4 linked regions of the Homo sapiens genome follow. The protein of the gene in region 1 purifies or fractionates together with the protein of each later gene. This does not show direct contact. Each region holds a gene or a part of one and is shown in the gene's direction. Other genes may lie near its edges.

Region 1 (3,884 bases):
GCCTGGGATTACAGGCGTGAGCCACAGTGCCCAGCCCCCTCCCTCCTTTGGGAGGCTGAGGCAGGCGGATCACCTGAGGTCAGGAGTTCGAGACCAGCCTGGCTTGCATGGTGAAACCCTGTCTCTACCAAAAAAAAAAAAAGAAACACACACACAACGCATGAAACGTCGTCAAAGTTAGAGTTGAGGCAGTTGCTTTTCAAGGATGTACAGAGAGCTGTGAAGCAAGAAACAGATTTGAACAGGAGGGTGGGCTGGAGAACAGAGCAGCTAAAGAATGATTAACAGAGTAAAGAAGAAAGTGAAAATATAAAACCACCTTATCAGAGTTATGCCTTTCTAAACATCTAAACAAACAAACATTCACATATTCTATTCTAAAAACACATAATAATACATATTCTATTTTATGGTCTGAATTTACCAGAAAGGTCCTAAGAAAAGTTTCAGGAGTTCGTAGAGTCCTCGTAATGGCAACAAAAATTTTGAGAGAAACTGCAAAGCACAAATCCACAGAAATAACAGCATACTTTCAGTTAAGCATTTTCACCTTAGAGGGGGCATTCCAAAATGTAATTTCCTTTATTTGTACCAGTTTTTAGAGCTGTCAGAATTTCATGATTCTAGTTCACCAACACATTCACGTGTGTACATGCGCGTGCACACACACCACCAAGGTGCAAGACAGATGTGAATGAAGTAGACAGTCTAGAAGTCAGGTGAATATTAATGAGAAATATGACATAGGGACAGCCCTCCCATTTCTACTTCCACCTTCATTGACCATTATACTGCCCCCTGGACATTCTTACCATTAGCTGACAGGTATGCAAGCAGAGTGCTGAAGATGTCTCATGTGAATAAAATGTAACTCACTCACTCAGTTAAAACTAGGATTCTGTATCTTAACTCTTATCTAGGGAACTTACTTACTTACCCCATGATCTGTATATAGTTGCCTCTCAGGATAAATGCATATATAGAAGATGGTCATGCTCAGGGCTAAATATGTTCTGGAAGCCTTTTATAAGTTCTCAGGCCTGTGTCCTGGTAAACATTACCTTAGTGATTATTTGGTCTGCATTCATTGGAAGAGCTTAGGGATAGAAAATGCCTCCTGCCCTCTCCAGCTGTTTGCTGCCTGTACCATCGCACAGAACTCACACCAGTACTTTAGAGTATGAAAGATAATACTGAAGAGAAAAGTGACTTGTATCTAACATTTCAATCTCCTTGCAGATTTCATACATACTTAATGATTAGTACATTCAGACTAAAGGGAAATTTCTTTTGATGGCACGTACTATGGTAAATCAAAGCGCAAACTCAGAAGTGCTATGGTATTGAGGCACTTACCAACCTTCAAAAGTAAGAGTAAAATGGGATATTCCTACCCTTTTTTTTAGTATTTCTAAGTGAATCTCTGTAATATTCTTTGTCTGTTTAAAGAAAACAGCCTCCCATCTCATAGTGGCTTCATGCTAAGCTCTCAGCAAGGAGAGAGAATGATGGTTTTGGCTTTAGTTTTATGAACAAGACCTAAAGCTTAATCCTGACATTCTGGTGTTAAGAATGAACACAGCATTGATATTTCACTTATCCAGGCTGTTAGAATTTGCAGTTCACATCATTACTCTGTGCTTAAATTTAAAAAGCTTTTCAAAACATCGTGACATGTGTAGCATTTAAATTCCATTTTATTCTTTGTCCTAAAGCAGGCAGTGGTATAGTTCAGGATTAATAACTTATTGGGAGTCTCTCAGTCATATAGAATATTAAATTTAATATAGTCACATGCATTAAGAAAAACTTACGCAAACAGTTTTTCACTGTTAATTTTGTTGTGCTTGAAGCATAATTTATTCATCCCTTCTGTCACTGATAATTAATTATTGGAATTATATACTTTAGGAGGCTAATCCATGCCCAGGAAGCACGAACATACTGTTCAGAATGTGCAAGTTGATGTAGGGAAAGGAAGATTCAGAAATGTACAAAATCCTGTGATTTGTTTAGTAAGAAAAGAGTTGTAACCAAAATTTCTTCTGGTCCGGATGTAATTAGTCCAGTCACAAATCTTTGTGTTGTTAATGGATTATTCAAGATATATATATATATTCTTACTACTGCATAGTTCCTCTCATAAGTCCTTAAATTTATTAAAAGGGGGAGGTAAACACAAGCAGTCTGTGTCTCACTGGTCACTAAGGGGCCTTTATGAGACAGTTTAGGTTGTTCATCATTTCACAAGGAAAGAAATTTTTCACTGTTAAATTAACATTTATTACCAACATGTGAAACCTAAAATTAATTTTGCATTCCATGTAATCTAAGGCCAAAGCCAACATATTCTTTCTCTTCTGGGAAAATAAAATTGACAGGTTTTGTTTAAACTTCAGAAACTGAAGCTTTATTTCAGCCTGTCCTGCCATGAGGTCTCCAGTGAGAGGTCTCCAGTGAAAGGTCTCATGTAATTGTTTCTCTTTTATCTCCCAAATTTAATGTGGGCAATAAAATTCTCCTTTCGTAATTCACTGTTTTATTACAAATACGATATTACTGAAACATCTTATTAGCAGATAAGTATAGACCAGGAGCCTAACTGTGTTAGATATTTTCAGTGCACATTTCACAGTTGTTTTTCATTTTAGGATTATTTTGAGAAGAAAAAATGTTTTGTAATTGAAATAGTTTTAATTTCCTTTAAACCATAATTTGGTTTTTCTATCTATATTATATTCAGTTCAGTTTTCCCATATAACTTTTGTGAAGATTGGCTAGTACCACAAAATAACTATGGCTTCACAATACTAGTGTTAGATTATGTCAAGAAGAAAGTGTTTTAGTTACAACATACGCCACCCACTGAGGACCTTGTAGTGGGATAAACAAAAATTAAAATGCAACAATCCAAATAAATTATAATGTAACAATACAAATATCTGAATCATAAGTCACAGTTTTTCAGGGTTCTTTCAGTCACACCACTTTATAATTAATTCTGGTGAGTCATCAGATGTAGGAATGTACCTGAAAACCTTACTTAGTATACTGTGTACACTGTTTAATGGCCATGCATCTTTTGAAGTTTGATATTTTCTGAAAAAGCATTGTTTGCCTCAGCCCTCTTCTTTTTACGTATACTCCATTTATCATTGATATTTTAGATGTTTCTTATCAACAAAATTGGCTGCCCTGGTTAGTGCTGAGTCATCGCAAGACTTGCTTTTGCATTTAGGAAGCCACACCCTCCCACAAAACAGAACAGTGCAAAATAAGCAGCAGAGAGACAGACAGTTGGAAAAGACATGTTTTCTTTAGGTATTAATATCTTAATTAAATGGAATCAGATTTTGTATGGAAATGAGTTTATATTACATTTCCATTATACTAAGTCAGTGTGAAAGTTTACCATCAAAATAGCGTTACTTCTTTTATGACTAACTCTGATTTGCTTATACATATCAGAATGATATTCATTAAATATTTTAATTTCATTTATTTTTCTATGTTTTGATTAGTTTCACATCAAGTCTGAATACTATATTTTGGAAGAATCCAAAACCACATATGAAGATACTGATTTTAAAAGTCAGGATTTCATGTACCAAGAATGACCTACTTGAAGGAGATTTTGCTACACTCTTAGAGTCCCAAAAATTCCCCTTTAAAAAAAATGCTGTCCTACAGAAGGTGTATAAACTATACCTTAGCCATAATTCAATTTAATGAAATACTACCCCATTAAAAGCCATCCTCCTGCCTCATACCGATTCAGAAATTAAATTCTGAACTTTTAGTGTAGGCATTAGGAATCACTTAGCCACTTAATAAGGACTGAGATTCTTGGGTGGCAGAAAAATCCTGGTGTGCTAGATTCTTAG
Region 2 (3,500 bases), on another chromosome or scaffold:
GTCTCAATGGTCCCTCGGGCTTCAACCTGTTCCCCCCTTTCCTGGGCCCTGGAGATCCCATGACTGGCAATTCTGACATCCTGATTCCTGGAGAGGCCTTCACCCTTGTGCTTGCGCCAGCTGGAGGGTGGTGCAGAGGGAGGTGGATGAAAAGAGCTGACTGGACAGAGAACCGGCACCCACAAGAGTCAGCCAAAAGGACAGCTGAGGTTGACATTGGCACGAGCAGATGTCTAAGCTATAGACTGTCAGGTCTGGGGACGGGGGATGACTTTGGGACCTCTCAGTCCAGTCCTTCAAAGGCGGCTCGGTTCACAGGGGGCTGAAGGGCAGGGGAGTGTCACTGCAGAGTCAAATATATCCGAGACCAGGGTCTGCTCTGCCAGATACTGGCTGTGCAACCTGAATGTCTCTAAGGTGCAGCTCCCTCATCTGCAAAATGGGGGTAATAACAGCACCTGCCTCATGGGGCTACAGTATGGAGCCCCACTAAGCGCCTGGCATGCAGTAGGCACTAAGAAGCATGAGTTTTTTTGTTTCTTTGTGGGTTTTTTTGAGGTGGAGTTTTGCTCTTGTCGCCTAGGCTGGAGTGCAATGGCGCGATCTTGGCTCACCGTAACCTCCGCCTCCCGGGTTCAAACAATTCTCCTGCCTCAGCCTCCCAAATAGCTGAGATTACAGGTGCCTGACACCCCGCCGGCTAATTTTTTTGTATTTTTAGTAGAGACAGGGTTTCACCATGTTGGCCAGGCTGGTCTCAAACTCCTGACCTCAGGTGATCCGCCCGCCTCAGCCTCCAAAGTGCTGGGATTACAGGCGTGAGCCACCGCGCCCGGCCCATGAGTCCTTTTCCTTGCCACCTCCTTCCCCACTCTTCTTCAACCCTAGCCATATGGAGCCTGGAGAAGGGGAAGTGAGATGCTGCCCTGCCCCACAGCGGAAGGGAGGGGAGAAGTTACAGCTCTGTTTCCTGGGATCCACTCTGTGGGCATTGGACACATAGGCATGTGGGAGACCCCATGCCTCAGTTTTCTGGGGCTGAATGGCCGTGGCTGAGTTGGGGCAGGGACTTCCTATTGGTTCAAAACCAACACAGGACGTATCTAGGAGTTGATCCAGTCTCTTGGCAGCTCAGATGCATAAATTCTGTGACCCAGGCGACTTGAGGAAAAGTATTTTCCACCTTTCTGGGCTGCCATATGCTCTTAGTTACCTGAAGCCCCTGGGCTAAGGAGCGGTGGAGCCAGCACTTTGGAAGGAGCTTTGGCTTTCCCAGGGGCCGGACAGGTACCCCTGGGACAGAGGGCGCCCCCTCATATCTTGACCCTCCTTTGACCTCCAACTCATTGCAGGGACTTCTTGCCTCGAGGATCTGGCATTGTCACCCGACGTCCCCTGGTCTTGCAGCTGGTCAATGCAACCACAGGTACGTGCCCTCCTTCACCAGCAGCCAGGCCTGCCCACTCCAGCCTCTCCCCCGTCCCCAAGCTGAGGGCCAGCCTGGCCACGAACTTGCTTGCTGTGTGACTGTGGGCCTCGTTCCCCTTAGGGATAGCGGGGATCAAAATACATAATGGAGACGTGGGTGGTGGTTCTGCTTGGGTGTGTCTAGGGGGTTCTATTACCGGTGGGAGATGAAAACCCCCAGGTGGGGTTCCAGACCTTGATGCCTACTGCCCTTCCCCTGCCCGCTTCTGGAGCAGAATATGCCGAGTTCCTGCACTGCAAGGGAAAGAAATTCACCGACTTCGAGGAGGTGCGCCTTGAGATCGAGGCCGAGACCGACAGGGTCACCGGCACCAACAAGGGCATCTCGCCGGTGCCTATCAACCTCCGCGTCTACTCGCCGCACGGTGAGGACCCTGGCCCCGCCCTAACCTCTAAGAATCATTTTCTTGGCCACGCACCTCTGCGTGCCTCGCTCCTCCTGCAGACTCCGCCCCTAGAATGACCCTGCCTCTGCATCATCCTATTCCAAGCTCCACCCTGCCGTGATTCCGCCCACTTCCGGCCACGCCTCCAACAGACTGCCACTTTCGCCCTGAGATTTCCTAGTCCCACCCACCTGCCACCCTGCTCCCAAGCAGCTTCTCTAACCCCGCCCTATTCTTTAACCTCGCCCGCGGCCACGCCCCTCGCCTTGAGCCCGCCCTCTCGCCGCCCTGTCCAGTGCTGAACCTGACCCTGGTGGACCTGCCCGGAATGACCAAGGTCCCGGTGGGGGACCAACCTCCCGACATCGAGTTCCAGATCCGAGACATGCTTATGCAGTTTGTCACCAAGGAGAACTGCCTCATCCTGGCCGTGTCCCCCGCCAACTCTGACCTGGCCAATTCTGACGCCCTCAAGGTCGCCAAGGAGGTGGACCCCCAGGGTAGGTTCCCACCCGGTGGCCAATGCACAAAACCCCAGGCTTGCAGGCTGTCTATTCTTAGTGTAAAGGGGAGCCTCTGAACGGTCTAAGAATAGCGGTGGGATCAGATTTGTACCTTTAAAAATCACTTTGGGGGTCAGGCATGGTAGCTCATGCCTGTAATCCCAGCACTTTGGGAGGCCAAGCCGGGAGGATTGCTTGAGCCCAGGAGTTCGAGACAAGGCTGGGCAACCTAGTGAGACCCCATTTCTACAAAAAATTTAAAAATTAGCCGGGCACCGTGGTGCACGCTTGTGGTCCCAGCTACTCGTGAGGCTGAGGCCAGAGAATCACTTGAGCCCAGGAGGTTGAGGCTGCAGTGAGCCCTACTCGCACCACTGCAGTCCAGCATGGGCAAGAGTGAGACCCTGTCTCAAAAAAGAAAAAAAGGCTGGGTGCAGTGGCTCATGCCTGTAATCCCAGCACTTTGGGAGGCCAACTTGGGAGGATCGCTTGAAGCCAGGAGTTGGAAACCAGCCTGGCAACAAAGCGAGATCCCATCTCTAACAAATAAAAAAACAAGAAGAATAAATAAAAATCATTTTGGCTACTCTGTGGAAAATGAATAAGGGGGAAAGAGAGGAGGCAGTGAGCAGGCAGGGGGCCGAGGAGAGCAGGGGGATGGGAGTGGGAGTGCATGGAATTGTGTGTGAGAGCGGGTGCAGCTGTAGACGGCCCTCCTGCTGGTGCACCCAGGCCAGCGCACCATCGGGGTCATCACCAAGCTGGACCTGATGGACGAGGGCACAGATGCCCGTGATGTGCTGGAGAACAAGCTGCTCCCCCTGCGCAGAGGTAAGCAGGCCATGCCCCTCAACCACTCCCCAGCCCTTCCCCACCCTTCCCCTCCTCTTGAGGCTGGTTGCCCTGACCTTGATACTGTTCACAGGCTACATTGGAGTGGTGAACCGGAGCCAGAAGGACATTGATGGCAAGAAGGACATTACCGCCGCCTTGGCTGCTGAACGAAAGTTCTTCCTCTCCCATCCATCTTATCGCCACTTGGCTGACCGTATGGGCACGCCCTACCTGCAGAAGGTCCTCAATCAGGTAGGCGACCAAGCCAGGATGGGGCCTGGGGAAACAA
Region 3 (3,884 bases), on another chromosome or scaffold:
ATGCTAGAATTATTTAAATATTCATTTTCATAATATACAGATTTTTAATTTTAGTTTCATAATTACTATTTTATATTTCAAAAAATTGTAACGTTTTAAATTTCTGTACATTTTTCTGCTGGTAACTTGAAAAAATTTTAGATTTGTTTTTCAGTGTTTGTATTAGCCTAAATATGTTTGATGAATTGCAGATTATAGTATAAAACTCACTAATGAGTATGTAACCATTATTTTATGTTCTTGATGTATATTTTAAGAAAATCAAGTGAAATAAACACACATTAGGCCATATGTTGGATATGTGGAATTGATTAATGTTTTCATTTCCAAGAAAATGCCATTATAATTTCCTATGATTTTTAGCATTAGTGATATTTTTTATCATAGAGATTTCTTTCTTTATATCTTACAACACATACATTTATACATTCTTAATCTGGCTTTAATAAATAGTTGAGAACAGTTTGTATGAATCCCAAATACAGAGCATTTTAACAGTGTTATATGTTTAAATATAGAAAAGCCTAATACAGTGATGTTTTAAATTTTATGTGTTGTCAACACAGTATTTCTTCTTAAATAACTTATGAAAAGTGTCTGTGTGTACTTTGGTAAGAAATGTATTTTCAATGTTTCATCAAGAAAGCAGTGATTTATCTTTTAACAGCATATATTCTAAAAAATGAACTATAATGGAAGCTATCTTTCCTTAAAATGGCCAGTCGTGTGAGCTATAATATAGTTCATTGATAGTAAAATCAATAGAGCATTGATTCTAAGCTTAATCCTTAGAGACTGTTGTTTAGAGTGACAGACATAGGCTAGTAAATATCTAGTTCTGTTTAATGTGTTCAGTGCATGAGATTTTGCTATCTTGAATTTGTACACCAAATACAATTTGTACGTAGGGTAGAAAATAGTAGCTATTAACAGACACATAGCACTTTCAGTTATGATGGTGATAAAATATTTGATAAGAGATTCTTAGCTATGAGTTCAGCTGTTTTCTCTTCTGCTATAGTTTAGTTATACCCAAAGCAAATTTAATACTTAAGAGTGCTATTAGGGAATTGTCTCCATTTTCTTAGATGTTCTTTATCAATAACTATACTTTTTACCTGAAGTTATTTCATGGGAGAGGTTTGCTGAAAATGATGATTTCTATATTCACCTTTTTTCTCCCTCAACAAATCTGAAGTAGAATGTGGATTGAGAATAGATTCAGGACTTAAGGTTGATTGGACTTCATTTGAATGTTGTAATCTTATGTTAGAGCACTTGAAACCTTTTTACCTATACATTTTCTCATTTAAAATGAATCAGTATTTATAAGATAGATTTAAACATAAATTTTTGATAACATGAATGATAGTTTTTATGAAGTCATATTATTATATCTTGATGTTAATATTCAAGAATTTCGATAAACATTGAAAAAGAATAGCACCAAATTTTTCTGGTGTAGCTACTGCCAAACCATACATTACTTTGTAGACTCTTGTATATTACACAATTTGCTTTTTAAGAGTTTAGTACTAATTAATGTCCTTTGCTTTCAACATTGGTTATTCCAATTTGATGATATTGTTATTAATAACCTAAGTTGATCAGAAGGTCAGGTTTTCTAGATTTGCTAATAAAATATATTTTACATTTATATCTGATGTTTTTCTACTGAAAAAAGAAGTTGCCTGTAATAAATCCTCTGCTTTATTTTTTTAGCATATCTCCAAGGTATCAATTTAATAACTATCAAAGTAGCTACTGCAGTTGTTGCATTTAAATTGATTTACATGTCAAGACTGGCAGTTTAGCAGCTGCGCTATTATTCCTAGATCGGTCAATTTACTTGAGAAAAACCTACTACCGAGTTCTACTGACCTGCCTGACAATATAGGCCCTATTTCTATTCCTGTAATTAGGCCTGCGACTAACTCAGAATATTTTTAATTAAAATATTTTGGTCAATGTGTTGCACCAAATTAGGCCTTTCAGTGAAGATTTAATTCTGGAAATAGTGTGATTAGAATATTTAATGAGTTGTGTTCAATTAACAGGTTGTGTGTGTTGAACACACAGTGTTTGTATGTGACCATTTTGAGTTTTACAGTCATAAATGTTACTCCTTATTTTTAACCTCAAAGATATTTGTTCAATGATTGTCTGACAAGTAAATTTAAATTGAGTTGAAAATTTATTTTAAAGTAACTTTTTTATCCTGATAGTACCAAGAAAGCTGATTTAAAATGCATCAGCTTTTTAAAGGACTAGGAAAGCTTTTACTTGTTAATGTTCTTCTCTTCCAGCAAAAGCCAAAAATGAGGAAATTGCCACTTAATTGTTTACAAATAAACAGTTTTATTGAGAAATCCAACATAAACACTGGTTGTTACCACATCTCTTTTTAATTTGGGAGTTTTTTATTTTCTAAAGGAATATAGCAATACAAAATTAAAAGACACTCAATTTTATAGGCTTTTACCTCATTAAAAAGCTTTGATAAAATCATGTGTATAAATACTTCAGCCTTGAGCCACCGTAGTTTAGGGGTAGACATAAAAGCACTGACTAGAAAATTTATTCTGAATTTGATTCAATTAATATGTAATTCACGGTAACAAACAGCTCTTATCTTGATCTTTCTCCTATTGAGATCCTCCTTTTTGTTGCTGACTTCAATGGTAGAGTCTTTACTATAGACTAGTAGACAGGTAGACTACACGTAGCTCCTTTAGTTTAGATGTCACTCCAGGAGTCACATCTTTGGGTGCTGTAAAAACATGAGATCTGGTATCCACAGTATATTACTGGACACTTTTTTGAAGGGTGTCAGTGACTAGAGCTATCTACAGTGCTTTGAATTTACTCGATATTATAATGCTGGGAACGTACATAAACATTATCTATTTTGGATAATTTGTTTTCTTTTTCCTTTTTGTAATATAGGCACAAATAGTTTTTTTTGTTTTTATTTTAAACTCCCCGTGAAAAACTGTTATATTTGTACTGTAGGTATGATGATATTCTGATCAATGGACTTCCAGATTGGCGACAGCCTGTATTCTACTACAGGCGGGTGAGAAAAATGAGCAATGCTGAGCTGGCATTACTCTTGTTCATTATTCTCACAGTGGGTCATTATGCTGTGGTTTGGTCAATCTACCTGGAAAAACAACTGGTAAGTGTTAGTAATAAATCAAATGAACTAGCCTCCTTAATTTTATATGGAATTTTGGACATTTATTTTTCAACTGATGAAAATTTCTGTTTCTCTCTGTATACTTCTCATTCTAATAGTTTTATACTCAATGTTTGACATATTTCTAAGTCAAGAAGAACCCATGAAATAAGAAAATATTCTTCTTTTAAAAAATGTGGCACTTAAGTTTGTTATAAAACTTTGTGAAAGCCCAAATATCTAGCTGGGAATTAGAAGGTAGAGCCATGTTTTCATTATCACCTTCCAAATAGAAATATTTTTTATTTAAGACTGATTTTAGATTTTTTTGTGTCACAGGCCTTTATATAATGAATGTTTACTTTTAAAATGTTTTAGGTAAATAAATAAAATTGGAAATGAATATAATATTCTAACTTCAATTGGTTAAAAAAATTATTACACTTTTCTTGGTTTAATATGCTACTCTATAGTTTATTCTTTGGGTTTTTATTTATATGTTAAAGATAATCAAACATATTTATCAGTATTCATGAATTAGCATCTGTTTACTCATTCCTTTTGAAGTGACATTATTAAAGTTGGATGAATGAGAAAAAGTGAGTTGAATGCTTTCTCTTCTTAGAAAACTTTGATTGCTATGGAGATGCACATGACTGACAGTCCTGAACTTCATGTGTGTTTAAGGCCTGGATACCATGGCAAC
Region 4 (3,884 bases), on another chromosome or scaffold:
AGCTTAGTTGCTTGTCTTTTGTTCTATTTCTTTACTCCTCCAATCTTTCCCACCCTGCCCCATGCTAGCCCATAGCACTGGGCCAGGGCTCGGTTCACTGGTGTTTTCCTTCCAAAGGGGCATGAAGCCCTGCTCTGTTGGCTGCAGGGGTTCAAAGGTAAGATATTGGCTTGGTCAGGGATTTGGACAAAGCCTGGTTTTAATGATCCTGCTCTCACCATCTCGGGAGAGAGACATGAATAGGGCCTGTGGGAGCTGGTGCTGCCTTTCCCCTAGCACCCTCCACCCGCTTCAAACAACCCGCCTTCAGATCCAGGCCCCCCTGTTTCTTGTGAAATTGTGCCAGTTTGTCAGCAGGGCAGTACCAATCTGTGCCAGGTGGGTGTCTCCTCCCCCATTGCCTCAGTGGGACATCAGGCTGAGATGGCCTTGGGGCTGGACTTTGGGGAGATTTTAAAGCCCTTTTGGGTTGGGGTGTATTTACCACCTGTCAGAGTGGGTGAGGACCAAAGGGGTGATCGTGTCCAACTCTGTTACGCTACAGTGGGGAAACAGACTGGGGAGTGCCCAAGGTCCCTCAGCCTCGGCAGACAAGGACCCATCTTCTGACTCCCAGCTCCCAGGCCATGCCTTTCCCTCTGTGGTTGGTTCTGTCCTTCGTGGCCCCCCTCAGTGCAGGGTTCATGGACTGGGCTCCAAGAGGGAGAGGGGAGGGCAGGGAGCTGCAGGGATGAGTGGACAATGTATCCTGTTCATCTCTGTGTCCCCAGTGGCCAGCACAGAGCCTGGCACAGAGCAGTTCTCCATAAATGTTTGTGAAGTACAAACCAGGGAACAGCCCCGCCTGTGGCCCCCCAGGGCGCCCCATGCCCAGCTCTACCCCTGACACTGTGATGTTCCATCTCATATCCGTCTACCCTACCAGGTAGGAGTTATTTGAGGCCGAGAAAAATGATAATAGCAACTTCTTCCATAGTGCTTACCACTATGTTGGTATATTACCATCACCCCACTTGACAGATTAAGAAACTGACACAGGCCGGGTACAGTGGCTCACACCTGTAATCCCAGCACTTTGGGAGGCCAAGGTAGGAGGATCACTTGGACTCAGGAGTTTGAGACCAGCCTGGGTGACACAAGGAGACCCAATACCTACAGAAAAATTTTAAAAATTAGCTGGGGCCAGGAGCAGTGGCTGACACCTGTAATCCCAGCACTTTGGGAGGCCAAGGCGGGTGGATCACCTGAGGTCAGGAGTTTGAGACCAGCCTGGCCAACATGGTGAAACACTGTCCCTACTAAAATTACAAAATTAGCTGGGTGAAGTGACACACACCTGTAGTCCCAGCTACTTGGGAGCCTGAGGCAGGAGAATCGCTTGAACCTGGGAGAGGGAGATTGCAATGAGCCAAGATCACGCCATTGCATTCTAGTCTGAGTGACAAGAGCAAAATGTAGTCTTAAAAAAAAAAAAAATTAGCTGGGCATGTAGTCCCAGCTACTCGGGTGGTGGAAGTGGGAAAATCACTTGAGCTGGGGGGTTCGAGTCTGCAGTGAGCTGTGATTGCACCACTGCACTCCAGCCTGGGCAACATAATGAGACCCTGTCTCAAAAAACCAAACCAAACGAAACAAAAAAGCTCTGCCTGCCTTCAGCCTGCTGAGGTCCAAATTTTAGATGTACTCCTTGTTCACTGTGTGCCCTTGGACAAGTTACTTCATTGTTTTAGCCTCGGCTTTCTTTTATTCTTTTGAGGCAGGGTCTTGTTCTGTTGCTCAGGCTGAAGTGCAGTGGTGTGAGCTTGGTACACTGCAGCCTTGAACTCCTGGGATCAAGTGAGCCTCCCTCCTCAGCCTCCTGAGTAGTTGAGACTACAGGTGCATGCCACCATGCCCAGCTAATTTTTCCATTTTGTATTTTTTATAGAGACAGGGTTTTGCCATGTTGCCCAGGCTGGTCTCAAAATTCCTGGACTCAAGTGATCCTCCCACTTTGGCCTCCCAAAGTGCGGGGATTACAGGTGTGAGCCACCACACCTGGCTGGTTTTCTTATCCCTGAAATAATCCCTCAAAATTACAGAGAGGGCTAAATGAGGTAGTATTGGTAAAGTGGCTGAGATTTAGTAATCTCAATTATTGGTAGCAACTATTATTAAAAAAAATCAATGGATAGAAATGAGAACAATGCACTTTTGCCTCAGTAAAAAGTACTGACCTTTATGGTCAGAGCAATCTAAAGAGAAAGTGACCTGCCTCTGGAGGTAATGAGGCCCCCATCACTGGAGGTGCAGTGAGGTCTGGGCAAGCACAGGCTGGAGAATGATGTGCACTAGAGAGAATTCAGCAAAGGCTTGGCACAGGAAACTTTAAGGGCCCTGCCTTGGGATCAGCACTATATGATAGGAAATTAGAGGAGCAGGTGAATCCTACTTCCTACTGTGGGGCATTGAGGAGAGCAGGCAGAGATGTCCCCAGCCTCTGGGAACATCAGGGGTTGGCTGCTATGGTTTGGACTGTGAGGCTCCCCAGAGGATAGGTAGTCCTGAGAGGCTGCCTGGAGGAGGCCTGCAAGGGTGGGTATGGTTCTGATAGGTGGGAAAATGTGGGATTGTATTCTAGGCCCAGGAAGGGCTTGGTGGCCGAGGGACAGAGAGGAGCCTGGGCCACTGGTCCTGAGGTTGGCCCCGGGGTTGCGTCATCATCCTCGTGCCTCAGTCTCCTGGGCTGCTGGGATTACAGGTGTGCCACTACACCTGGCTAATTTTTTTTATTTTTTTAGAGACAAGGTTTCGGCATGTTGGCTGGCATGTTGGCCAGGCTGGTCTCGAACTCCTGACCTCAGGTGATCCACTTGCCTTGGCCTCCCGAAGTGCTGGGATTACAAGCGTGAGCCACCGCGCCTGGCTGGATTTTGTCATCATCCTGGGTGCCCAAGGGGTTTGGGTGTATGGTGGTGGCAGTGGGGAAACTAGTAATTCCCTGTCCCGCCAACCCCCCAGCTTCTCCTGGAGGAGGAGCCAGGGCTACTCCCGGTGGCAAGGAGCCCGGGCCCGTAAGGAGCGGAACTGGGGAAAGAAAGACTTCTTATGCCCAGTGCATTTGGGGGCGTCCGGGGGTCGGGGAACAGTGGGGCCTTTGTCCCCAACCGCTGGGAATCTGGCCGAGGAGCTGGCCCTGGGTCTGGCTAGGCCCTCGGAAGGCAGGTCCTCTTTGAAGTGACCCTTTCAAAGCTCGGCCTGAATCCCTGGGAGGAGAGACAGCATGGGGCGGGGCGTGGGGATGACTGAGACCCAAGGGCCGAGGCCTGAGGGATAGAAACAGACCCGGCCTTGGCCTCTTGGGGTGTGGAGGTTGGTCGGAGGTGTGTGGGCCGGAGGAATGTGGTGGGCTGGGAGACCGCGTGGGAGCCATGTGGGAGGACAACCACGCAAGGGGCCTTAGCCCCAAGTGGGGGTGCACCTAGGCAGGGGCCGAGTTCATTCTGGCCCGAGAGTGTTTCTGTCTCCTATCTGACTTCTGTCTGGCTCTGTGCTCCTGTATCAACAGCTGCTTCTTCCTTTTTAATTTCCCCAAAAGTGTGAGAGCTTGGAAAGAATCGGGTGTGGACGCCAGACTCAGAGCTCTTGGGAGGAGGGAGAGGTGGGGACCTGGGCAATCCAGAGCTTTTCCTGCTTCTGAGAGCCCCCGAAGGCTGGAAGGAGAGGCTGGAGGGGACACCCCCACCTCCCGCATAGAGTCTCCCTTATGCTCAAGGTGGAGGAACTCTGTATTGTTCCTGAAAAGGGACAGAAGGAGGAGGAAAGCTACCCAGAGAGGGGACATCTTCCTTTGCTTCAGCTGGAGGAATATCAGAGGCCACCCTCCTTCCCTGTCTCTCCATTTG

Evidence for each region.
Region 2: the proteins of FER (region 1) and DNM1 fractionate together in Homo sapiens (co-fractionation; one study listed by BioGRID). This does not show direct contact.
Region 3: the proteins of FER (region 1) and DNAJC1 fractionate together in Homo sapiens (co-fractionation; one large-scale study listed by BioGRID). This does not show direct contact.
Region 4: the proteins of FER (region 1) and ARHGAP23 purify together in Homo sapiens (affinity purification with mass spectrometry, with the first as the bait; one large-scale study listed by BioGRID). This does not show direct contact.

What each region holds. Positions count from the first base shown.
Region 1 is NC_000005.10:109,188,259-109,192,142, forward strand, and holds part of FER (tyrosine-protein kinase Fer), read left to right. Parts: 3' UTR 1-3,884. UniProt on the Homo sapiens protein: Tyrosine-protein kinase that acts downstream of cell surface receptors for growth factors and plays a role in the regulation of the actin cytoskeleton, microtubule assembly, lamellipodia formation, cell adhesion, cell migration and chemotaxis.
Region 2 is NC_000009.12:128,216,879-128,220,378, forward strand, and holds part of DNM1 (dynamin-1), read left to right. Parts: intron 1-1,352; coding exon 1,353-1,426; intron 1,427-1,703; coding exon 1,704-1,853; intron 1,854-2,170; coding exon 2,171-2,374; intron 2,375-3,109; coding exon 3,110-3,208; intron 3,209-3,302; coding exon 3,303-3,463; intron 3,464-3,500. UniProt on the Homo sapiens protein: Catalyzes the hydrolysis of GTP and utilizes this energy to mediate vesicle scission and participates in many forms of endocytosis, such as clathrin-mediated endocytosis or synaptic vesicle endocytosis as well as rapid endocytosis (RE).
Region 3 is NC_000010.11:21,920,092-21,923,975, reverse strand, and holds part of DNAJC1 (dnaJ homolog subfamily C member 1 precursor), read left to right. Parts: intron 1-3,012; coding exon 3,013-3,178; intron 3,179-3,884. UniProt on the Homo sapiens protein: May modulate protein synthesis.
Region 4 is NC_000017.11:38,431,218-38,435,101, forward strand, and holds part of ARHGAP23 (rho GTPase-activating protein 23), read left to right. Parts: intron 1-3,884.